Homo sapiens: one gene and its partners. The protein of the gene in region 1 interacts with the protein of each later gene in a biochemical or structural test. Each region holds a gene or a part of one and is shown in the gene's direction. Other genes may lie near its edges. The genes, in order: LRRK1, RAB29, BAG1, CLVS1, FOXP1, CDC42EP3 and TCF25.

Region 1 (3,500 bases):
CAGGTGAAATAAACAGCCTTGTTGCTCACACAAAGCCTGTTTGGTGGTCTCTTCACATGGACGTGCATTAAATTTGGTGCCGTAACTGGCGCGGGGGGAGGGGGGGGGGAACCTCCCTTGGGAGATCAATCCCCTGTCCTCCTGCTCTTTGGTCCATGAGAAAGATCCACCTACAACCTCAAGTCCTCAGACCAACCAGCCCAAGAAACATCTCACCAATTTCAAATCCAGTAAGCAGCCTCTTTTTACTCTCTTCTCCAACCTCCCTCACTATCCCTCAACCTCTTTCTCCTTTCAATCTTGGCGCCACACTTCAATTTCTCCCTTCTCTTAACTTCAATTCCTTTCATTTTCTGGTAGAGATAAAGGAGACACGTTTTATCCGTGGACCCAAAACTCCAGCGCCGGTCACGGACTGGGAAGGCAGCCTTCCCTTGGTGTTTAATCATTGCAGGGACACCTCTCTGATTATTCACCCAGGTTTCAGAGGTGTCAGACCACGCAGGGACGCCTGCCTTGGTCCTTCACCCTTAGCGGCAAGTCCCGCTTTTCTGGGGAATGGGCAAGGACCCCAACCCCTTCTCTCCGTGTCTCTACCCCTTCTCCGCCTTTCTGGGGGGCAAGAAACCCCCAACCCCTTCTCCTTCACCCTGAGCGGCAAGTCCCGCTTTTCTAGAGGAGGAGCAAGTACTCCAACCTCATATCTCTGCGCCCCAATCCCTTATTTCTGTGCCCCAACCTCTTATCTCTGTGCCCCAATCCCTTATTTCCATGCCCCCACCTCTTATATCTCTGCACCTTGATCCCTTATTTCCACATCCCGACCTCGTATCTCTGCACCCCGACCCCTTTCCCACTTTTCTGGAGAGTAAGAACCCCTGAACCGCTTCTCTCCGTGTCTCTACTCTCCCTTTTCTTTAAACTTGCCTCCTTCACTGTAGGCAACCTTCCACTCTCCATTCCTCCTTCTTCTCCCTTAGCCTATGTTCTCAAAAACTTAAAACCTCTTCAACTCACACCTGACCTAAAACCTAAATGCCTTATTTTCTTCTGCAATGCCGCTTGACCCCAATACAAACTCAACAGTAGTTCCAAATAGCCGGAAAACAGCACTTTCAATTTTTCCATCCTGCAAGATCTAAATAATTCTTGTCGTAAAATGGGCAAATGGTCTGAGGTGCCTGACGTCCAGGCGTTCTTTTACACATCAGTCCCTCCCTAGTCTCTGTTCCCAGTGCAACTCATCCCAAATCTTCCTTCTTTCCCTCCCGCCTGTCTCCTCAGTCCCAACCCCAAGCATCGCTGAGTCTTTCTAATCTTTTCTATAGACCCATCTGACCTCTCCCCTCCTCCCCAGGCTGCTCCTTGCCAGGCCGAGCTAGGTCCCAATTCTTCCTCAGCCTCCGCTCCTCCACCATATAATCTTTTTATCACCTCCCCTCCTCACACCCGGTCCGGCTTACAGTTTCCTTCCGTGACTAGCCCTCCCCTACCTGCCCAGCAATTTTCTCTTAAAAAGGTGGCTGGAGCTAAAGGCATAGTCAAGGTTAATGCTCCTTTTTCTTTATCCCAAATCAGATAGCGTTTAGGCTCTTTTTCATCAAATATAAAAACCCAGCCCAGTTCATGCCTCGTTTGGCAGCAACCCTGAGACACTTTACGGCCCTAGACCCTAAAAGCCCAAAAGGCCGTCTTATTCTCAATATATATTTTATCACCCAATCTGCTCCCTACATTAAATAAAACTCCAAAAATTAAATTCCGGCCCTCAAACCCCACAACAGGATTTAATTAACCTTGCCTTCAAGGTGTACAATAATAGAAAAAAGTTGCAATTCCTTGCCTCCACTGTGAGACAAACCCCAGCCACATCTCCAGCACACAAGAACTTCCAAACACCTGAACTGCAGCGGCCAGGCATTCCTCCAGAACCTCCTCCCCCAGGAGCTTGCTACAAGTGCCAGAAATCTGGCCACCAGGCCAAGGAATGCCTGCAGCCCAGGATTCCTCCTAAGCCGTGTCCCATCTGTGCGGGACCCCACTGGAAATCGGACTGTCCAACTCACCTGGCAGCCACTCCCAGAGCCCCTGGAACTCCGGCCCAAGGCTCTCTGACTGACTCCTTCCCAGATCTTCTTGGCTTAGCGGCTGAAGACTGACACTGCCCGATCACCTCGGAAGCCCCCTAGACCATCACGGACGCCGAGCTGCCAGTAACTCTCACAGTGGAAGGTAAACCCGTCCCCTTCTTAATCAATACGGAGGCTACCCACTCCACATTACCTTCTTTTCAAGGGCCTGTTTCCCTTACCTCCATAACTGTTGTGCGTATTGACAGCCAGGCTTCTAAACCTCTTAAAACTCCCCAACTCTGGTGCCAACTTAGACAATACTCTTTTAAGCACTCCTTTTAGTTATCCCCAGCTGCCCAGTTCCCTTATTAGGCTGAGACACTTTAACTAAATTATCTGCTTCCCTGACTATTCCTGGGCTACAGCCACACCTCATTACTGCCCTTCTTCCCAATCCAAAGCCTCCTTTGTGTCCTCCTCTTGTATCCCCCGACCTTAACCCATAAGTATAAGATACCTCTACTCCCTCCTTGGTGACCGATCATGCACCCCTTACCATCTCATCGAAACCTAATCACCCTTACCCCGCTCAACACCAATATCCCATCCCACAGCATGCTTTGAAAAGACTAAAGCCTGTTATCACTCTCCTGCTACAGCATGGCCTTTTAAAGCCTATAAACTCTCCTTACAATTCCCCCATTTCACTTGTCCTAAAACCAGACAAGCCTTACAAGTTAGTTCAGGATCTGTGCCTTATCAACCACATTGTTTTGCCTATCCACCCCATGGTGTCAAACCCATATACTCTCCTATCCTCAATACCTCACTCCATAATCCATTATTGTGTTCTGGATCTCAAACATGCTTTCTTTACTATTCCTTTGCACCCTTCATCCCAGCCTCTCTTCACTTTCACTTGGACTGACCCTGACACCCATCAGGCTCAGCAAATTACCTGGGCTGTACTGCCCCAAAGCTTCACAGACAGCCCCCATTACATCAGTCAAGCCCAAATTTTTTCCCTATCTGTTACCTATCTCAGCATAATTCTCATAAAGACACACGTGCTCTCCCTGCCGATCATGTCCGATTAATCTCCCAAACCCCAACCCCTTCTACAAAACAAGAACTCCTTTCCTTCCTAGGCATGGTTAGTGCAGTCAGAATTCTTACACAAGAGCCAGGACCGCACCCTGTAGACCTTCTGTCCAAACAACTTGACCTTACTGTTTTAGCCTAGCCCTCATGTCTCTGTGCAGCGGCTGCTGCCACCCTAATACTTTTAGAGGCCCTCAAAATCACAAACTATGCTCAACTCACTCTCTACAGTTATCATAACTTCCAAAATCTATTTTCTTCCTCATACCTGACATATATACTTTCTGCTCCCCGGCTCCTTCAGCTGTACTCACTCTTTATTGAGTC
Region 2 (2,499 bases), on another chromosome or scaffold:
ATTCATTGATATCATGACTTCCAATTGAGAGGAAAATGAGATCAAATGTCATTTCCCAAATTTCTTGTAGGCCGTTGTTTCAGATTCTTTCTGTCTTGGAATGTAAACATCTGATTCTGGAATGCAGAAGGAGGGGGTCTGGGCATCTGTGGATTTTTGGCTACTAGAAGTGTCCCAGAAGTCACTGTATTTTTGAAACTTCTAACGTCATAATTAAGTTTCTCTTGTCTTGGCATCAAGAATAGTCAAGTTTTTTGGCCGGGCATGGTGGCTCATGCCTGTAATCCCAGCACTTGGGGAGGCCAAGGCAGGCGGATCACATGAGGCCAGGAATTCGAGACCAACCTGGTCAGCATGGCAAAACCCCGTCTCTACTAAAAGTACAAAAATTAGCCAGGCGTGATGGCACGTGTCTGTAATCCCAGCTACTCTGGAGACTGAGGTGGGAGAATCGCTTGAGACTGGGAGGCAGAGGTTGCAGTGAACCGAGATCATGCCACCGCACTTCAGCCTGGGTGACAGAGAAGGACTCCGTCTCAAAAAAAAAAGAAAAAAGAATAGTCATTTTTAAACTACCTATCTCATGCAATGAAAGCATTTTCTTCCACAAAGAGCTTAATCCTCATGATAGGATTGCCTAGTGTCTCCCATTTGCAGGTTTCTGGGTTGATGTCTTAATGCATAATACTGCAAGTGACATCAGCTGGCTGTGATGCTTCGAAATAGGTCTGCTCCTCACAGCTTTGGGAATCTGAATGGAAGAAGAAAAGAGAGAAGTTAACAACCTCCACTGGGGCAACTTTGTGAACACGTAGGCACTTAGTCATAGGAAACATATTATGTGCAGGTCCTAGCCTGGGGGAGGAAAGTAGATAGACAGAAAATCATTAGGTAATTTAAGTACTAAATTGGGCAGGGCTTTTTAGTATCAAATCACTACTAGACCATTTAATTTGTTAAATTATCTCTAGGATGGTGATTTATAACCTACCCAAAGTTATCGATATTCTTACTAAACTCTGAGGCCTGAAGTTCTGTGATAGACCTTAAATAAGTGTCCTAAGTCAGTGGTTCCCAAATCTGGCTGGTCGGGAATACCTGGGAAGTTTGTTAAAATTTTTTAAAAATGTTTTAAGATTTTTGGGTCCTGAGCCAGCCGTGGTGGCTCACACCTGTAATCCCAGCACTTTGGGAGGCTGAGGCAGGTGGATCGCCTGAGGTCAGGAGTTCAAGATCAACCTGGCCAACATACTGAAACCCCGTCTCTACTAAAAATAAGAAAAATTAGCTGGGCGTGGTGGCGGGCACCTGTAATCCCAGCTACTTGGGAGACTGAGGCAGGAGAATCGCTTGAACCTGGGAGTTAGAGGTTGCAGTGAGCTGAGATCACACCATTGCGCTTCAGCCTGGGCAACAAGAGTGAAACTCCATCTCCAAAAAAAAAAAACAAAAAGAAAAAGATTTTTGGGTCCCGACCTCAAACCTACTGAATCAGAATTTCTAGGGATGAAGCCTAGGAATGTGTTGTTGTTTTCAGAGCTTCCCTGGTGATTGTGATAAGCCTGGTTTGGAAACCATTGCTGGAGAACTTTGTAAAGATACAGAGACCCAGACCTTTTGTATTTACATTTAAATACAAATACAAATCCTGGGTTTCTATATATTCTGTTAGCTTTTCAGGTGATTCTGCTACACAGACGTTGAAAACCACTGCCCTAAGAAAGAGATCAGAGGCCACATATCAGAGAGAAAAGGGACCAAACCTTCGGTGGTTTGTTGTGTGTCGTTTTAATGCCAATTATTTTAACTTGCACAGTCTTCTGAAACCTTGTATTAATAGTTCTCTTTTGTATTACCATTTTCAGGTAGGGTTTTGATCACTATGATTCTGAAGATAATAGTGAAATAGTGAATTTCATTGATATGAAGAGATAATTGATTTTCATTCATTGGTTTGAACACCTGCAAAATCACAAATAAATGAGAACTAAGTCTTGTATTCATGGTGGTTATTGGCCTTTAATGTGAGTTTGTCAAAGTGCTGTTTTATACTGATAGCTCAAGAGGATTGCGGAAATGGAGACTTTATTTTTTAAATACCTTTTTCTAAATTTTCAATTCAAGGGGTACGTGTGCAAGTTTGTTACATGGATATATTGTGTGATGCTAAAGCTTGGGTTTCTGCTTAGCCTGTCTCCCAAGTAGTGAACATAGCACCCAGTCGGCACTTTTTCAACGCTTACTCCCTCTCTCCCCACTTTTGGGAGTCTCCAGTGTCTGTTGTTCCCATCTTTATGTGTGTGCCCAATGTTTACCTCCCACTTACAAGTGAGAAATGTGGTTAAATACCTTCTTTTAAAATGAAGGTAAATATTATTCTGTTTACCTGTTAACTTACTAATACCAATTGCTTAGATCCATCTGCCTAGTACCAATTCAGTACTTGATGGAACATGCCAAATACTACTTGGAAACGTGACCTTTTTGAAAAACTGAATG
Region 3 (3,500 bases), on another chromosome or scaffold:
ATTTATATTTCATAGTGTAACATATTGTCTTTAATTTTTAAAAATATTTTATTTCTGAATTATAAAGACAATAGAAATTCATGTTTCAAAATAGAGGAATGCATGAAAAAGAAAATGTTCCCCTGGATAAAACCCCTCATAATAACACTGTGTCATCAGCATTCATTGTGGTATTGGGGTTTCCTGCAAAAAATGAGCTTTAATGGCTACTGTAGACCTTAATGCCTACTGAAGACTTTAAAGTCTTCTGTAGTGTGGTTCGTTGGTCCCTGATTCCTGAATATTTGGCTCTTTCCAGTTTCTCACTATTATGAAAAGGTTGCACTGAATATTATCGTATAGTAGTTACTGTGGAGTCGCATGTCCAATTATTTGTTTAGGATAAATATCTGGAAATGAAATTACTGGGTCATGACACCCTCTAAAAAGATACCAGTTCTCATTAGTGAACACACTTGTCTATTTCCTGTATCCTGCTGAAATTTATTTTCAGTGTTGTACAATTATTACAACTTGGCCTACCTTTCTCCTCTTTTTAGGAAAATCTCTGAAGGAAATGGAAACACCGTTGTCAGCACTTGGAATACAAGATGGTTGCCGGGTCATGTTAATTGGGAAAAAGGTAAATTGCTTTTTCCATCAGAAATCCTCAGAATCAAATGACTGAAGTCTTTTATACATGTTTCTGTTTAGAAGACCAAACTGGGGACCCAGATTCTGCATTGATAAAACACCTCTCTAAACAAATACAATCTTTATTGGTTTTACAGGATTACCAGTTTTGTTGTTCTCATACCCTCCTGCTCCTGTTGGTTAGAACTTTTGCTCTAGGAATTAGGAGCGGTTGTGCTGCCTTAATAATATGTTTTTTGTTTTGGTGGTGGAATCTTGGTCTGGTTAAAATGGTGCCTGGGACAGGTCTCATTCACTTGGAGTAGAATTTGCAAGAGTCTTTTGTTAAAATAAACTTGTAGATATTAAGAATAATCACTCTGTTCCAGTTCAGGAGCCTCTCTCCCTTTAACCAACCTTTTAACTAAAATCTCCCACAAGGGAAAACCTTCGACTGGAAAGGAAGGTTCAGACTAAAGAACTGAGGGGAAAAAAAGACAGATGAGGTCAGCAACCCTTAAGGTGATGAGAGAGGGCTGTGGCCAGCCCTGCATTGTGACACAGCAGAATTATGAGCATATGAAGTTCCCTTATTGTGAGTTAGGTGGCTGAGTAGAGAGAGGGCAGATAAACAAAGTGAAGGCAAAAAAAATCTAATCCAGACTTGGAACTGCCAGGAGACTGGAACTCAGGACTTGCCACAAAGAGAAGTGAATAATTTGGGATAGCATAACTAAGCAGAAAGCTGCTAGACCTATCTATCAATTGTTTACCTGAGAGAAGAGGGAAATATTCTAAATTTCTTGCTTCAGGGTCAGGGAGAATGGTGATGGGCAACAGGCAGAACCAAAGAGTCAAGTTTGAAGAAACTATAGGACTTTTACTTGGAGCTGACACAGAGCGTATGGAGCGAAGTGTGAACTCAAGGAAGGCACCATGGCACATGCCTATTGTCCCAGCAAGTTGGGAGTCTGAGACAGGAGGATCACTTGAGTCCAGGGGTTTGAGGCTGCAGTGAGTTATGATCATGCCTGTAAACAGCCACTGCACTCCAACCTGGGAACCGTAGTGAGACCCTATCTCAAAAAAGAAAAAAGTCTGAACTTAAGTCTAATCTACCTCTTTTGGACTGTGTGATCTCATGTTACTTTACTACATTAAGCCTCAGTTTCATCATCTGTAAAACAGCAGTACTTCCCTGATGGAGTTGTGGTAAGGCTTAAAAAATAGGTAAGGTGCTTAGGATAGTGTGTGGCATGTAGGAAGTGTTCAATAAAAGTATTCATCGTTGTTAACCAGCATCACATTAAACAGGAGCGCTCAATTGGAGGCTGCCATTTAGGAATTCCATTTAAAGGAATGGTAGAATTCCACCTTTCTTGCCATTCTGGACTCCTCACAAGTGTTTACTGAAATGTGATTACCCTCCAGGCTTCAGTCTTGGTTGTTGATCAGTATAGGGCTGAGACTGAATCTGGCACTTGGATTGTCTCCATTCTCTGCACCCAAGCTGTCAGGGCCCTCACCAGAATGTTTACCTAACACCTTCTCTCTAGTCTGGAGTCTTTGTAGATGGAAAACTTGATGTATAACCCTTTGACTTGATTTCCAAGAAGCAACAGAGTTAAAACTGTTATTTCTAGGTGAGTGGCTTCATGCAGGTGTGGTCAGGTATTTTTCCTGACAGAGGCTGCTGTTCTTGTTGATTGCTTTTTCTTTTTTCTTTTTTTTTTTTGAGACAGTCTCGCTCTGTCACCCTGGCTGGAGTACAGGTGCACGATCTCAGCTCACTACAAACCTCCACCTCCCAGGTTCAAGCTATACTCCTGCCTCAGCCTCCCGAGTAGCTAGGACTACAGGTGCACGCCAGCATGCCTGGCTAATTTTTTTGTTTTTTTAGTAGAGACAGTGTTTCACCATGTTGGCCAGGCTGGTCTTGAACTCCTGACCTCAAATGATCTGCCCATCTCGGCCTCCCAAAGTGCTGGGATTACAGGCATGAGCCACCATGCCCAGCCTGTTCTTTTTGACTATTGGCTTTATTTTCTTCTTAAACATTTTAGAACAGTCCACAGGAAGAGGTTGAACTAAAGAAGTTGAAACATTTGGAGAAGTCTGTGGAGAAGATAGCTGACCAGCTGGAAGAGTTGAATAAAGAGCTTACTGGAATCCAGCAGGTAACTCTCTTCATGGACCTTAACTTTCTGCCTTCTATCAGAGCTTCCTGGATATAACTTGTGGTTATGGGGACATGTTCTGCAGTCAGACTCCCTGGGTTCAGATCCTGGATTCACCCTTTCTCTTACTGTGAACAAGTTTATCTTTGTCTCAAGTTCCTCATCTGTAAAAATGGAATAATGGTGACATTTCCCTATTAGGATTGTTGGGAGAATTAAATAATGTAGATTGAGCTTGACACATACTAAGTGCTTTATAAGCATTTATTGTCATAGTTATTGTCAAACCCCAGCCAGCATCCATTTATGCTCACAGGAGAGCACCTGCCTTGCTAGGATCATGTATTGTCTGAAATAGAACAAGTAGCTTCTCTCTGGGCTGTTGTAATGTGTTTGGCAAGGCAAATAACATTTTGTTGGTTCATAGAAGGTCCAAGTTGAACATGATAGTGGGGTTGGGGGAGTCATCCTATTCAATTCCTTATATTAGAGATGGGGTACTAAAACCCAGTAAGGATTAGGACTAGCTCAAGACCACTTTTATTTATTTTTCCCTCTCATTTTATAGCATTAATTGGGGTGTGTTTGTGTTTTGGCTTTTTTTTTTTTTTTTTTTTTTTTGATATGGAGTCTCGCTCTGTCACCCAGGCTGGAGTGCAGTGGTGCAATCTCAGTGGCTCCCTGTAGCCTCTGCCTGCCAGGTTCAAGTGA
Region 4 (3,500 bases), on another chromosome or scaffold:
GTCTCTTTATTGAAACTTATGCTTAATTGCCAATCTAAGTTTTTCTTAGTTTAAGGGAAGTTTATATTCTTTTGCTTGATTCTTTATGGATTGAAAATGAACTGGCCAAACATCCCCTGCCCCATAAAAAGCTTCCATTTATTGAGATAATAAGTTCATTTTTCTTCCCTAAGTCTGATGCCTCCCATAGCCCTTTATTATACCTTCTCAGGTCAGGTTGCCCTAGGCTCTGTCCCTTTATGCACCTGTTCTGTGACAGGGAGTATCAGAGAAAGTTCCCTGTGTGGTAGGCTAATTTCCTGTGAGCTTTTGTGCTTGATAATTTCTGAGCCAGCAGAAATTTCTCCACATGTGTTTGAGATGATCTGTTCTTGTTTCTAGGATGCTTGTAGCCAAATCTGTTCCTAAATGTTGTGCAGACCACTGATGACTCCTTTTCTATCTATGCTCCTTAAAATAGTATCAAAGGTCTTAGACAAAGTTCCATATATTTGTGTGTCATTTACATAGCTTATTCAATTGTTCATTATTTTATAGTTTTGGAGGAAGTAGGAGAGAAGTTATGGGCCTGGGAATAGCATGTTGTAGGGGGGCGTGTTAAATTACAGGATCTGTACATAAAAACTTCTTAATATGTGGTCAAATTAAAACAAAATAAACAAAACCCATGAGATCTTTCACTCTTTCCTTTTTTCTCTTCTTCCCTCCTCCTTTCCCTCCCTCTCTCTAAATTTCCCTGCCTTCCTCTCTTCCTTCTTTTGTGGTTGATATATAGAGCATGCAAACATAGTGAGAGTAATTAACAGGGTGATCTGATAAACTATTATGAGTGCCATTGCTCCATAGGTAAAGAACACATTGTGGGTACTTTTATGTTCCTCCTGGACAGTGCATTAGGGCTGTCCACAGACAGCATGAGTTCTAGCCTCAGAGGCAATTAACCTACCTCTCAACCCCTCTGGGTCGTTATAAATCCTCTGGACCAGCTTTTCTCAAACATTAATTTGCATACAAATTGCCTGGGGATTCTGTTACCTGTTCAGTAGGTCTAAGTGAGTCCTGACATGCTGTGTCACTAACAAGGTCCTGGGTTCTGCTGCCACTGCTGATGCATGGACCACCCTTTGAGAAGCCAGGGCAAAGAAAAGTTTTTTTTTTTTTAATATTCTCACTTTTACGTCTGACTATTAAATAATAAGACCCATTCTAAAATGAAACAAAAACCACTCCATGTTCTGAAGAAATAAGAGCTCAGAAATTCTATTTCTAATTGAGGAGAAAGTTATAAAAATAGCCTCTTTCCTCCCACCTCACCCTTAAGCTTGCTGATGTGTTTTACTTTTCCCAGGCAGTTTTCTTAGCTGTGATTCCCACTGCTGCCATTGTCTGTGCAATCACATCCAGAAGAAGGGTCACGGTTACATGGATCTGCTGGGAAAACAATTAGTGGAAAAGGGGGCAAATAGAGTTAATGGCCGTTTTTGGGTGAGTCCTACCTTTCTTATCTCCTTTAGGTCCTCTTCCTTAAAAAAGAGAATCTATTCTTAGAGAAATACTCTTTCCCTTTGAAGACAGAAGGGTCAAGGTTTTTGTTTGTTTGTTTGTTTTCCTTTCTCTTCCCATTGATACCCCTAGGAAGCACAACTAATCTGTTTTAAAAATTGGGGTATCAACTGCCAATGACTTCTTATGGGGATAGTTGAATAGCCTACGAAACATTCCAGTCTAATATTCTATGACTCAACAATTATTTCCCTATATATTAACTTTGTTTAAGATACATTGAGGTGTAAGGTAAATGCTACTTCAATTAAAGACTTTTTCTACCAAACACAGTGAGGAGGAACAAAAATCTCATACTTTATAAGTTGGCATTCCCCTCAACTCCTTGCATTATTTGCCCCAAAGAAAACTGCAAAATGGTTCTAGAATCCTCTGTCACATAGGTCCTTCTTCCCTGAGTTGCAGTCTGTTCTAATTCTGACCTGGCATCTATTTTGGTTACAAAAGTTTTCAGTGTCTCTACTCTGATGGAGCTCATTCCAATCTACTTTTAACATTTCTTGAGAGCAGGACCAAATGGGAGCAAATGATTGTGTGCTTCTTTGCTGTTTTAAAGGGAGCCAAGGGAGTCTACACAATGAGTATTTATGTGGCAAGAGTTAGTCCTAGGCTAGGACTAAGCTAAAGGTGGTGAAAGGTGAACTGTGTAGCATGGGCTAAATTCTGGTCACGTTATGCTTTCAGATAATTCAGAGTCTCCTCTCTATCCTTGTAGACTACTCTCCCTGCCCCTAGTACAGATAGTTTATATCTGTAAGTTGGCTAACATTTAAAGAAAGTCAATGAATTCAGGGTCACTTTTTACCCACAGGTCTGATGTTCCTTAGCCAGTACTCATGCAGAAGTCCTACAAACCATAATGGCCAATCTGAAAATTCATCCATCAGAAAAAAGACTCCTTCTGGTCAGCACCATGGAACATGTAACCAACCAGCCTCTGAGATTTAAATATAGGCTAAATAGGCTGTAAGGGAGTGTATTATCTTTCAAGAAAGATTTCAAATAGAGTTACACTTAAAAAGAAATATTTTTGGTCACTATGATTTTCAGTTTTGGCTTAGATATATCAGCAGCATCTATTTTTATTTCATTCAGTATAAAAATTTCTTTTGGTATTCCTAGGTAAAAATTCATATTCAATTTAAAAATTTGAAGTAAGTTTTTAGCAAGGTAAAGAGCTATAAGGGTTAACCCAATTCAATATATATTAAAAATTTGGAAACAAAAATTCACACATACCAATGGATGAGTTAGTTGGTTAGACTTTCTGTACAAAGTGTTGTCACCGGTATTAATTTTTCATCCTTTTCTTATGAAAGAAACCCACAAAACAAATATGGCTATTGTTTCTTATTTTATATTTGTATTAATTTAAATTTATGTGTACTTAAAAACTGTTCTTTGTATTACTAAGAACACCCAGAAGCCATGCAAATTTGAAGTGTTGTTCAGCAGTTATTGATGTTCTTATATTTCAAATAATATTTAGGCTTTACAGATTTTATCTTTCTGATCATGACAACAATATTCTATTTCCTCCCCAAATTTGGGCAGTTTTACAACACCCCTTAAATGATGTCCTTTAGGACTGACAGGGTGTGGATGTGTGTCTATTATGTGAGTGTAGTTGAGTGTGAGGGCACCGGTACTCAGAGTGATGTTAAACAAGGCACCTACTTGGAGAGCAGAGTCTTGGACAAAACGTGGGTAAAGTAGGTTTGAGTGCAAATCTTTGTTCTTTCAGCCATATCTAAATCTCAGATTCATCTTTTCATCTAATAGTAATAACCTACCTTTAAGGATTGCTGTGGAAATTAGACTATATAATATCAAAGACCTTGGCATCTAATAAGTACTCCATGAATATTTGTTGGTTTTCCAACTTTAAAACAAGCTCATTATCTGACTTAGCTGTTATGTACCCCGAATATTTACCT
Region 5 (3,500 bases), on another chromosome or scaffold:
CCCCCTCTCTCCCCACCCCAAGTAAAAAGGGAATTTTTGGTTAGTTAAAATGTGTGTATATACTATTGGGGTAGATTTCTTATTTGTTCACTCACTATAATAATACAAATGTAATGAAGTGAATGACTAAAATGTTCCAAGCATAGTAAAGAAATAGGTCATATTGCATACACTTCCTTTAAAGACCACTGATAAATGTAGGTAATTGCCTACTGGGAGGCACCCTTTTCCCTCAGTATGCCCTATGTAATTTTTTAATATTTTTATCCTTACGAGGCTAGAGATTTTCTGACAACAGTATGTTAGTTTCATTTGGTCCGTGAATGGAGATGGCAGCAAATATTCTCAGACCCTCCCAGATCTGGCTAAGACATCCCCTTATTTAGGAACGACCCTCCCCTGGCATACCCTACTCTCCATCGCCTGTTGGCAATAAACGTGCCTTGTGGATATTCCTTAAAAGCCTTCCTGCCATCCCTCTAGCAGTCACTGTAAAGTTCAAATCTCAAAGATGCTTAGGAGCCAAGATTCTCTCTGCTCGTGCCCAGCAGCCCCTGCTGTGAGCTCACTGCCTTCCCCAGCACGACCTCCTAGGCTGCTGCCTTCCTTTCTGTTGGAGTCTGGAGTCAGGCTAACTCCTAAAAATCTGCAGAGAGGTCTCTGGAGGGAGGACCCAAGCCTGTTACTACCTAAGCCAGAATTTTACACCTAGTTTCCTTGAATAGAGAAGTCCAACCCCAGAGGTGTGCACACACACCCGCCCTGCAAATCAGTGACGGGGAGAAAGCCTGACTTTTCTTGGGTTTTGCTAGTGGGGGAAATTGCTCATTTGGAAGGGCACCAGCAAGCTTAAAACAAAACTTAGCTAGGAACTCAGCAGTCGACTGTGTTTAACTTTGAGTTTTTATGTTTTTCTTACACAGTAACCCTTCCCTTATTAAAAACATGCAGAGCAGCCACGCCTACTGCACACCTCTCAATGCAGCTTTACAGGTAAGATTAACGGCCGTCCCGAATATGCAGCAGAGGCACAGGTCTCCCCTACTCATTTCAAAATATATTAGCCTTGCTCTAATTAGATATTAAATTTTAATTCCGTTAAACTTTTTTCTTAAGTGCACAAAGCATCATACTCCCTGGAGGCAAACACATCGGGCTGCTTCAGCGTTAGCGGGATGCTTAGCATTTTGAATATTGTGGCAAAAAAATTAAAAGTTCACTTATTAATATTTATCAGCAGTATCATAATTTCCATCCTCTTATTTCAGAATTTCACTTGAGGCAAAAATACCACAAGTGTAATTACTCTAGCACAGCTATTAATGTGCTGGATGATAGGCCACTGCGTCACATGACCTTCTATTGTTCATGGGTTTAAAGAGAAAGCAGGGCTTTGTATTTCTTTTTCTTCTTTTAAAGTCGACTGTAGCATCTTGGCTTTTGTCTGGGGTGGGGAGGATCTGGGGTCTGGTTCACTTTGTAAAAGTAAACCATGTCTGTTTAAACAATAGAGGTGTTTAAGAAGACTCTTTAGTTTTCCTGCAGATTGTTCAAGATTACATGATAATCACACGGAGTATTTATTTCCTACTGACAAACCAAGTACTTGTTACATCACCAATGGTACCAGGAGATGAAGACGCGGGTTTTGAGCAGGAGCGAGATTACCACCCAAAAAGGAGCTACCTGAGGCAGCCCAGCTTCTAGCAAACTTTTTACATGTTGCACATTTCAGTTCTTAAATGAAGGCTACTCCAGTGTCATTTCATTAAAGTACCTGGGTGTAGTACTCAAGTCCCCCCTCAAGAGTTCATAAGTAAGCAGTATCCTTTTGGCCAGTGGTCCTGTTTTTGCCCCTACCCAGACTGTTCGAGAAGCATATTCTATAGATAAATCTGACATTTGTCATCCAATACCATTGCAGTCCTCTGCAGCATACATTCTCAATGGGGGCTGTATCACCCCTAGATTGGTTCTGAGATACTGCAATGTCTTGTGTCCTTCCAAAGGACCATAATACTTGAGCAAATATGAACATTTCTTGGGGTGAGGGCAGAAAGAGAGAAACAAAAGTCTAAAAAGGGACAATAATGAAAAAACAGTTGAGACCTTTAGTATGATGGGAACAGGATGAGGAAGGAGGAGATACTGACAGGAGCCCTGGGTCTTGCTCTGCATTAAACAGATATTTATGGACATTAAACAGATATTTATGGAGCACGACTCTGTACCCTACAGGCCCAGAATAGTCTTAAGGCTCCTGGGAATTGATGATAGGCCATTTACCCAGTTTCAGTTTAGAGGCAGATTCACTGGCCTTAGCATTTCAGTAATTATATTTATTTATTTTTAGCCTGAACCAGATTTAATAGGAGAAACTACTTTCTGCGTTTCTTTTAATTACTTGTAGTTTACACAGTAACTTTAGAAGAGTAAATGAAAGCATGCTTCGATGCTGCCACTGTAAATACCATTCATTAGTAACTTATTTTCCCTGGAGTCTTGTGAAGTGTGAATTTAAAGCCTGCTCTATCTGGAATATGGAATAGTATTAAGATTACAAGCACATTTTATATTCATGAGCCGGAAAGGCAAAAAAAAAAAAAAAGTGATCCTCCATCCTCTGAATTCTCTTAACTATGTGACTAATTTCAATTAGTATGCTTTGTCATTACAGAACTGTTCAGGTTTCATCTCTGAACATTTGCTTTTGGCATCTTCTTCAGTAGCCCAAAACTGTCCTGCCGTTTTCCAAGAACACTTTCCGTCCATAATGAGGCAAGGGGAATAAATTGATACAAATTCATGATTTGAGAAGTGGATTGTTTCCCTCTCTTCTACGAGTTTGGATCCCTGATCAGTAGACAGACACATAAGACAACTTTCTACTGTGCAAATTAAATAAGGATTCTGCCAGCAGGCCTTCCTTTCCATTACCGCCTATTTCCATTTTTCAAGACAAGTAAAAATAATAGTGGAACAATATCTTCAAAAAAATTACTAGAGCAACATAATGCATGATATACAATATATAAAATAGGACAGCAGAATCCACTACAGAAATAAAACATGGGACTTGGGACAGATTGCATTATGCTCTGAAAAGTGAAGTAACTAAGGGTAACCGTAAAGCTTCGTATTTATAGACTGCCTTTCCCCTGAGGATCTCAGAGTGGTTAATGTTCCAGGAGCGAGGGTGCTTATGGACTTCTGCACCATTACTTAAGCAACTTCATTTTTTGGCAGAGGTGCCAGCTTGATATGAAACCACATGCTGTGCAAGGACCATTTATATAATTAACTCCATTTTTGTAACACACCTGCTTCTAAGTGGACATCAACTACCAAAAAAAAAAAAAAAAAAACACTTTGTTAGGCAGAAGCAGTTAGTGAAAATTTATCTAACCTTGGGTGGGTTGCTCTGATCACTTGCTTAACAGAGAGCGTGTTCAAGAAGCTCTCTTGCGGATCAGGCACTGGGATCTCTCTGCAGCCCATTT
Region 6 (3,500 bases), on another chromosome or scaffold:
TTTAACAACACAATATGTGCAGGCATGAGTGGCTAATCCTATGTGAAAGTCAGCAGCTCTTTGGGTTAAGGGGATGGGAAAAAAAACTGAACTTCTGAAGCCTCCGAGTCAGGCTGCCTGGGCACATGTCCTAGTTCTGGCACTTAACACCTGTGTGACTTTGGGCAAGTTACCTCACCTTTACCTCAGTTTATCCTTTGTAAAATGGAGATAATATTATTTCCCTGAGGATTAAAGGAGTTAAAAAAGATTATGTACTCAGAACAGTGCCTGGCCCAGAGTAGCCACAATAAAAGGTTGAGGTTTTCAATGTTGCTTTTGTTTTTTTCCTAGGTACTTAATACTGGTTCTGTCATGTAATATTCATAACTATTCTTTGAGAGAGATAGTACAGTGGTCCCCAATTACCCGTGGTTTTCTTTTCCAGGGTTTCAGTTACCCATAGTCAACCATGGTCTGAAAATAGGTGAATATGGGGCATTTTAAGAAAGAAAGAGACCATATTCATGTAATTTTTATTACATTGTTATAATTATTCTATTGTTAATCTCTTACTGTGCCTACTTTACAAATTAAACTTTATAACAGGTATGTATGTATAAAAAACAACATAGTATATATGGGGTTCAGTACTGTCCAAGGTTCAGGCACCCACTGGGGGTCTTGGAACATATCCGTGGAGGATAAGGCAGACTATTATATTGCTCTTCTTTTCCAGATGAGAACACAGGCTCAGAAAGGTTTAGTAACGTGGCCAAGGTCACACAGCTAAATAGCAGAAGCAGGGTTTGAACTCAGGTCTTTTTGACCTTATACTAAATACCACACCCCCACCAATGGGGAGGAGGGGCAGAGAAGTTGTTAAATCTGATTTTTGTTATGACTTTTGGCCTCTGGCAAGGAAATAATTTCATATCACCCTGTATCTCACAGTTGAAGATGACAGTAATTGCCAGCCTTGAGGAACACTATGTAAATTATTTTATTATTAAAGATGATTCAATCCCACATATGTGGCATGAAAGTGGATCTAGCATGAACACTGCTAGGGTTAACATAAGCAGTTTAATTTATGCCATAAACGAAGAGATTTACTAGGTGAAAATGTGGGACTATATGGTGAGAAAGCAAGCCAAGCCACAGCCAGGGACAAGGACTTCTGGTGGCTGGGGATGAAGTGAAGCTCTAGCATAGACTGTGTGCTCGCTTCAAAATTCTGGGGAGCCCGGGGTTGCAGAGTCCAGTAACCACCTGTGGACAATCCCCTCCTTGAAGGCAGGAACCACACTACCTGGGCCTTCAGTCCCGGCACTCAGTGGACGTTTTAGTCCATGTTTGTTGATGATGTTGCTGCAAGAACTCAGCAGAAGAGGAGCTACAGGTAAAGTGAACAGAAAGGCACTGGGCTGTGTCCATGGCAGAAGTCAAGCCCTGTTACAGTTCAGCATATCCCCTGGGCCCTGCTAGATAAGAAACACACAACAAGGAAACCTTTGAAACCTTGTCCTTACTGCTTGCCCCGGAAAACCCACAGGGCCTGCCTTGGCCTCCACTGCTTTGATGCTCTGGGTTTGTGATTAGCTGTGGGGATCAGCTCCAGAGACTTCTCAGATGGAAACAGGGTTCTGGAAAGGACAGTCCGAAGTAACTCAGGTAGCCTCAAAGCCAATGGTTACAGTCTTGGAGCTGTCCAATTCCATTTGAAATCTTCTCCTGTCCCCACCTCTTAAAGGCTACAAAACAAAACAATACCCCACAAACCAGAATAAGTAGCCATGTAGTTCTAAAGCAATAGTCAGGTGTGTTTCTTTCCTTAAAAAAAAAAAAAAGCTTTCTCCTTGATATACTTCAGTGCCAAGTTTCATCAGAATCACATGATGATGGACTGAATTTGACAGTACCTCTGGTAGAAAAGCAGTTTTCAAATTTTAACCATACAGTTTTATAATACAAAGCATGATGCTGAGATTTAAAAGATTACTATTTCTAAATAGCCAAGTAAACTGTGTGAAAGCTGATGAGTTCCAAACTAGTGTTTGCTTAGTCCTTACTGCTTGCCTAAGTCATGAATTAATAGAATTCTAGAATCCCAAATTTAAAACTTTTTAAAAAGGATTTTCAGTGGATTGGGTTTTATTTCCATATTGGATAAAGTTATTATTAGCCTTCTAGCCTTTGGCCCTTTGTTAAACCATGTTGCAGAGATCACACACCTGCAATTAGGTAACAGGGTACCGCCTAAAGTGTACCTCGAGCCATGAATGTCATAAAAGTATTCTGTGGGACCCCAGTTTGATGAAGGTCCCTTTCTGCAGGACTTCTCAGAACATTTAAAAAGCCAGTGTATATAGTGAATCTCCACAGGGAGGTCGTGTCCAGAGTTTCTCAAATGGTTTTGCCCACTGAGCAGCTGCAGGACCAGCCTGGCAGGAAACACACTCTGGGAAACACAGAACAGAAGCTACATAACCGCAGTATGTCCTACAGAGCCGAAGCAACCCAGGGACATTTTAGTTAGAGAACCACAGGCGTTACAGGAAGAGAGCGATGAGGATGTACCAGGAGATCCTGGCAAACGCTGATAAAACTAATGGAGAATTAAGTGAGGGCAATCAAAAGGGGTGTCTGTGTGTAGAAATAGAGATTAAAAAAATACCAATTCTGGTCTTAGCTCTGACCCAAATTGTATAACCTTGACCTCTTGGGGTTTTCTTGTTCTCATCCCTAAAACGTAGCATTTGGTGAGAGATGATCTCAGATAATCTCTGGCTCCAGAACAGTGAGCCAGGATCAGTGGCACCTATTAGCATAGCTATCTTACTACTAATAATGTAAGACTCTGGGTTGAAAAACAGACCCGTGCAGATCTCTGGCAGAGCAGCCTGAGCAAGCGTGGAAGGCAGGGAACTTCCAAGTCAGGCCTCTATTTAGACAGCTTCCACATTTGGGAATCCGTCATGTTCTGGTGACAACCTGAAGGTCCTATTTGTAGACACATCATGCCAATGATAGATCGTTGTCATGAGTTTAGTTGAAAAAGAGCTTTTCTGTCCAAATACATCATAATCATTTAGGCTACATACATTTTTTAAAACAAGCAGAGGCATTTTTGGTGAAATGTGGCTTTGCCATTCAGAATGTGTTTGATTTCTCAACCTTTTTATTTATTTTTTAAACTTTTGTTTTGCCAAGGGTCAGTTCAGACTTAAAACATTGATTTTAACACAGCGGGAGATGAGGCTCTAAGCCTTTGGCTGACCAGCTAGTCAGAAAACAAATCCTTCCCCTTCTCTGGGCAGGCTCCATCCCATCACCTGTGAAAAAAAATGGCAGAGTGGGAGGGTGGGGATGGGAAGGGAGGCCAGAGAAGTGTGTGGATGTTCCCCAGGCCCTCTCCTGGCCCTAAACTGTGATTCTGTTCCTCTTTTTTCTTGTATCAGAGGCATTTCCATAGTGTCTTGTATCTTCTCCTATTGTAACACTTACTACATTTAAGTTAT
Region 7 (3,500 bases), on another chromosome or scaffold:
ACAAAGAGGGAGCAAACACAGGAGAAAGTGCACGCCTTGGGGTCATCCCCTGGCCCTCCAGGGCTCGCCCTGTGTGCACGCAGATGGACCCGCCCTGGGTGCATTTTCACATTTCTGTGACGTCAGTCCTGCTTCCTAAAGAACATAACCTGCCCAACAGGCTCACGGCACATACCTGTGTGCCCCAGCCCCACGCCCTCAGGCCAGCAGCCCAGGGGCCTCCTTTCACTCCAGGCCACAGGGCACTCCCTGGACCCCCCGTCTGCCCATCCATGGGGCTCTGCCAGCCTCGAGGCAGGCTGTGGTCTGAAGAGGGGTTCTGCTCAGAGCCCTTGCTCTCCCCCAGCCAGCCCCCTGCCCTGAGCCAGCTGGTGAACCTGTACCTTGGGAGGTCACACTTTCTCTGGAAAGAGCCCGCCACCATGAGCTGGCTGGAGGAGAACGTCCACGAGGTTCTGCAAGCAGTGGACGCCGGGGACCCAGCCGTGGAAGCCTGTGAGAACCGGTGAGCTAGGGGTTGACACAAGCCCTGCCACGCCCCCTCCTCAGGGACCCTCATCCCAGACACGGGGGCCTCGCATTCGGGAGGCGAGAAGGGCTGTGAGCAGCTTGGCCTCCCTTGCTGTGGGGCCTGTGTGGAGCCTACAAGACAGCGCACAGCCCCTGGCGTGTCCCAGAGGCTTCCTGGGAGGCAGCTGTGGTGATCAGCGCAGGGTACCGAGCTGCTGTTCCCGGGTGCCTCGGGCTGGAGTGGTGCCTTCGGGTCTTGCAGTGTTTCCACATGAGCTGTGAGATGATGACGAGTCTCTCACAGCAGCATCTTGGGAGTAAAGAAATCTGGCAGAGACGAGAAAGAGTCTCCTGTCCTGTGTGTGAACACTTCGGAGGCTCATGCCCTAATATGCTGCAACTGACAGGCATCCCCTTGCTGTTCTTGTCTCGTTTGTCTGCGCCCTTGGCCCTGTGCTAGTTCTGTGCATCAGCACCGTGGCTCTGTGCAGTGGTGTGGCCAGGCTCAGGACCGCCTGGGAGTGGTGCCCATTTGCATCTCCACAGTGAAGTCTGTGTGCCGCGGACATGAGGTGTGCCCGGGGGTGCCCAAGAGGCGCTGGTGCCCCCAGCCGCTGGCAGTCATGGGCCCGTCCGCGTGTCTGCTGTCCCCACTGGACTGGACATTCTCATGGACAGGAGCATTTTGTTCCCTGTACTGCTCTCCAAGAGCGATTTCCAGCAGGGACCAGTGCCTGTGCCTGTAGCCGTAGCAGTGACGATGGTGACACACCCAGGTGTCCCTTCATGGAGATGAACTCAGTGACTTCCCACAAGAAGCCACTGGCTACGGCTCTCATCGTTCTTGTTCTTTGGATGAAGAGGCTGAGTCACTGGCCATGTGGCTGGGATTGGTCCCCAGAGGCTCCCCAGCCGCAGGCCAGGGACCAGCCATGGTGCCTCTGCTCGAGAGTAAAGTGTACAGTTTTTGCAGCCACCAGAGATGCAGCGAGATGCCTCGTGCTGGGTGGGGGTGGGGGCCGAGGCTCCATGGCGGTTACCATTTCATTTGCTGTGCTTTATCTGCTGTGCCTTGTTTCTCCCCGGCCCTAGGCGGAAGGTGCTCTACCAGCGTGCACCCAGGAATATCCACCGCCATGTGATCCTCTCTGAGATCAAGGAAGCCGTCGCTGCCCTGCCCCCGGTAAGGGAGAAAGGCTGAAATGGGAGCTCTGTGTAAGCCGGTCACATGCACGTCCCTTCTGCTCCGGGCGGTCCACATGCAGGCGTGCGTGGTGCGGGCTCCCTCAGCAGCCCAGCCCCGCCACGGCAGGGGCAGGGTCTAGTGCAGAGGGCTCCTCCTTTCCTGGCAGCCCGGGTTCGGATGCTTGTTGTTTTGAGAGAGAAATCCTTTGGGGCTCAGAGCACAAGCTGAGTCGTCACCGTGGTGAGCTGCTCCATCCGTGGTCTTGTGAGCGCGTGGTGCGGCTGCTGGGGGATTCTCTGTAGTCGTGGGGTGTAGTCCTGCTCTGACGCCTCCTGTGCTGGAGGTGCCGTTTCTGTCTCAAAACCTAAGGAGTTTGTACTGTTGTTAAGGGATAAGATAGAACGAGTGAGAAAACCAGCAAGTCAGAGGGTCGCAGGACCGTGGACCGTCCACTGGGGACAGCTTAGTGCCTCCTGGTTTAACTTCAGCTGCTCTGCGGGCCCTTATGACCGGCATGGCTGGCTTTGTCTGGGGCTGTGAGCTTCTGACTCTCCTCAGTAGAGTGGCAGCACGTGGCACTGTGCAACCCGAGGGCAGCTCAGGGTCCCTGTAGCCTGCATTTGCTGAAGTGGGAGCTTCTGACACGTGGTGAAGATGTTGGCAGGCTTGAGCGGCACGTGACCCCCTTCCTTCCCCACCACACACTCTGGTGTGCAGGGCAGACGCCGTGCAGGTTCATCTCGACTCCCGTGAGTGTCCTGGTGGCAGAAGGACTGTCCCACCCTCACCCAAAGCTCGTTGGTACAAAAAGCACAGCCGTTTCTGTCAGACTCTGTGGCTATCTCTCAGCAGATGCATCCAGTCCATGCTGGAGTCGACAGAAGGACTCTGCTGGGAGAGGTAGAGGCCCCCTGGCAGCATCTGTAGCATCTTCGTTTTATGTCCCTTTCTGAAGGACGTGACCACGCAGTCTGTGATGGGGTTTGATCCTCTGCCTCCTTCGGACACAATCTACTCCTACGTCAGGCCAGAGAGGTACCTCCCTCCTTCCAGTTCCCACCTCCCAGCTCCCACCTCCCTCCTCCCAGTTCCCAGCTCCCAGCTCCCACCTCCCAGCTCCAACCTTCCAGCTCCCAGCTCCCACCTAGCAGCTCCCGGCTCCTGGCTCCCACCTCCCTCCTCCCACCTCCCACCTCCCAGCTCCCACCTCCCTCCTCCCACCTCCCACCTCCCTCCTCCCAGTTCCTACCTCCCATCTCCCAGCTCCCAGCTGCCACCTCCCAGCTTCTGCCTCCCTCCTCCCAGTTCCCACCTCCCAGCTCCCACCTCCCAGCTCCCGCCTCCCTCATCCTAGTTCCCACCTCCCAGCTCCCAGCTCCCTCCTCCCACCTCCCACCTCCCTCCTTTCACCTCCCACCTGCCACCTCCCGCCTCCCACCTTCCAGCTCCCGCCTCCCACCTTCCAGCTCCCGCCTCCCTCCTCCCAGTTCCCACCTCCCACCTCCCAGCTCCCACCTCCCAACTCCCTCCTCCCACCTCCCACCTCACCTCCCTCCTCCCTCCTTCCAATTCCCACCTCCCAGCTCCCAGTTCCCACCTCCCAGCTCCCGCCTCCCACCTCCCAGCTCCTGCCTCCCTCCTCCCAGTTCCCAGCTCCCACCTCCCTCCTCCCGCCGCCTAGCTCCCACCTCCCAGCTCCCGCCTCCCACCTCCCAGCTACCGCCTCCCTCCTCCCAGTTCCCAGCTCCCACCTCCTACCTCCCAGCTCCCGCCTCCCACCTTACAGCCCCTGTCTCCTCCCTCC

Evidence for each region.
Region 2: the proteins of LRRK1 (region 1) and RAB29 form a complex in vitro, tested with the Homo sapiens proteins (one large-scale study listed by BioGRID).
Region 3: the proteins of LRRK1 (region 1) and BAG1 form a complex in vitro, tested with the Homo sapiens proteins (2 studies listed by BioGRID and IntAct, with this or other methods).
Region 4: the proteins of LRRK1 (region 1) and CLVS1 form a complex in vitro, tested with the Homo sapiens proteins (2 studies listed by BioGRID and IntAct, with this or other methods).
Region 5: the proteins of LRRK1 (region 1) and FOXP1 form a complex in vitro, tested with the Homo sapiens proteins (2 studies listed by BioGRID and IntAct, with this or other methods).
Region 6: the proteins of LRRK1 (region 1) and CDC42EP3 form a complex in vitro, tested with the Homo sapiens proteins (2 studies listed by BioGRID and IntAct, with this or other methods).
Region 7: the proteins of LRRK1 (region 1) and TCF25 form a complex in vitro, tested with the Homo sapiens proteins (2 studies listed by BioGRID and IntAct, with this or other methods).

What each region holds. Positions count from the first base shown.
Region 1 is NC_000015.10:101,072,857-101,076,356, forward strand, and holds part of LRRK1 (leucine-rich repeat serine/threonine-protein kinase 1), read left to right. Parts: 3' UTR 1-3,500.
Region 2 is NC_000001.11:205,767,486-205,769,984, reverse strand, and holds the end of RAB29 (ras-related protein Rab-7L1), read left to right. Parts: 3' UTR 1-1,999; downstream 2,000-2,499. UniProt on the Homo sapiens protein: The small GTPases Rab are key regulators in vesicle trafficking. Essential for maintaining the integrity of the endosome-trans-Golgi network structure.
Region 3 is NC_000009.12:33,258,209-33,261,708, reverse strand, and holds part of BAG1 (BAG family molecular chaperone regulator 1), read left to right. Parts: intron 1-539; coding exon 540-622; intron 623-2,675; coding exon 2,676-2,789; intron 2,790-3,500. UniProt on the Homo sapiens protein: Co-chaperone for HSP70 and HSC70 chaperone proteins. Acts as a nucleotide-exchange factor (NEF) promoting the release of ADP from the HSP70 and HSC70 proteins thereby triggering client/substrate protein release.
Region 4 is NC_000008.11:61,290,970-61,294,469, forward strand, and holds part of CLVS1 (clavesin-1), read left to right. Parts: intron 1-1,348; exon of another isoform or gene 1,349-1,485; intron 1,486-3,500.
Region 5 is NC_000003.12:70,968,229-70,971,728, reverse strand, and holds part of FOXP1 (forkhead box protein P1), read left to right. Parts: intron 1-923; coding exon 924-993; intron 994-3,500. UniProt on the Homo sapiens protein: Transcriptional repressor. Can act with CTBP1 to synergistically repress transcription but CTPBP1 is not essential. Plays an important role in the specification and differentiation of lung epithelium.
Region 6 is NC_000002.12:37,665,143-37,668,642, reverse strand, and holds part of CDC42EP3 (cdc42 effector protein 3), read left to right. Parts: intron 1-3,500.
Region 7 is NC_000016.10:89,904,592-89,908,091, forward strand, and holds part of TCF25 (ribosome quality control complex subunit TCF25), read left to right. Parts: intron 1-346; coding exon 347-505; intron 506-1,602; coding exon 1,603-1,693; intron 1,694-2,651; coding exon 2,652-2,731; intron 2,732-3,500. UniProt on the Homo sapiens protein: Component of the ribosome quality control complex (RQC), a ribosome-associated complex that mediates ubiquitination and extraction of incompletely synthesized nascent chains for proteasomal degradation.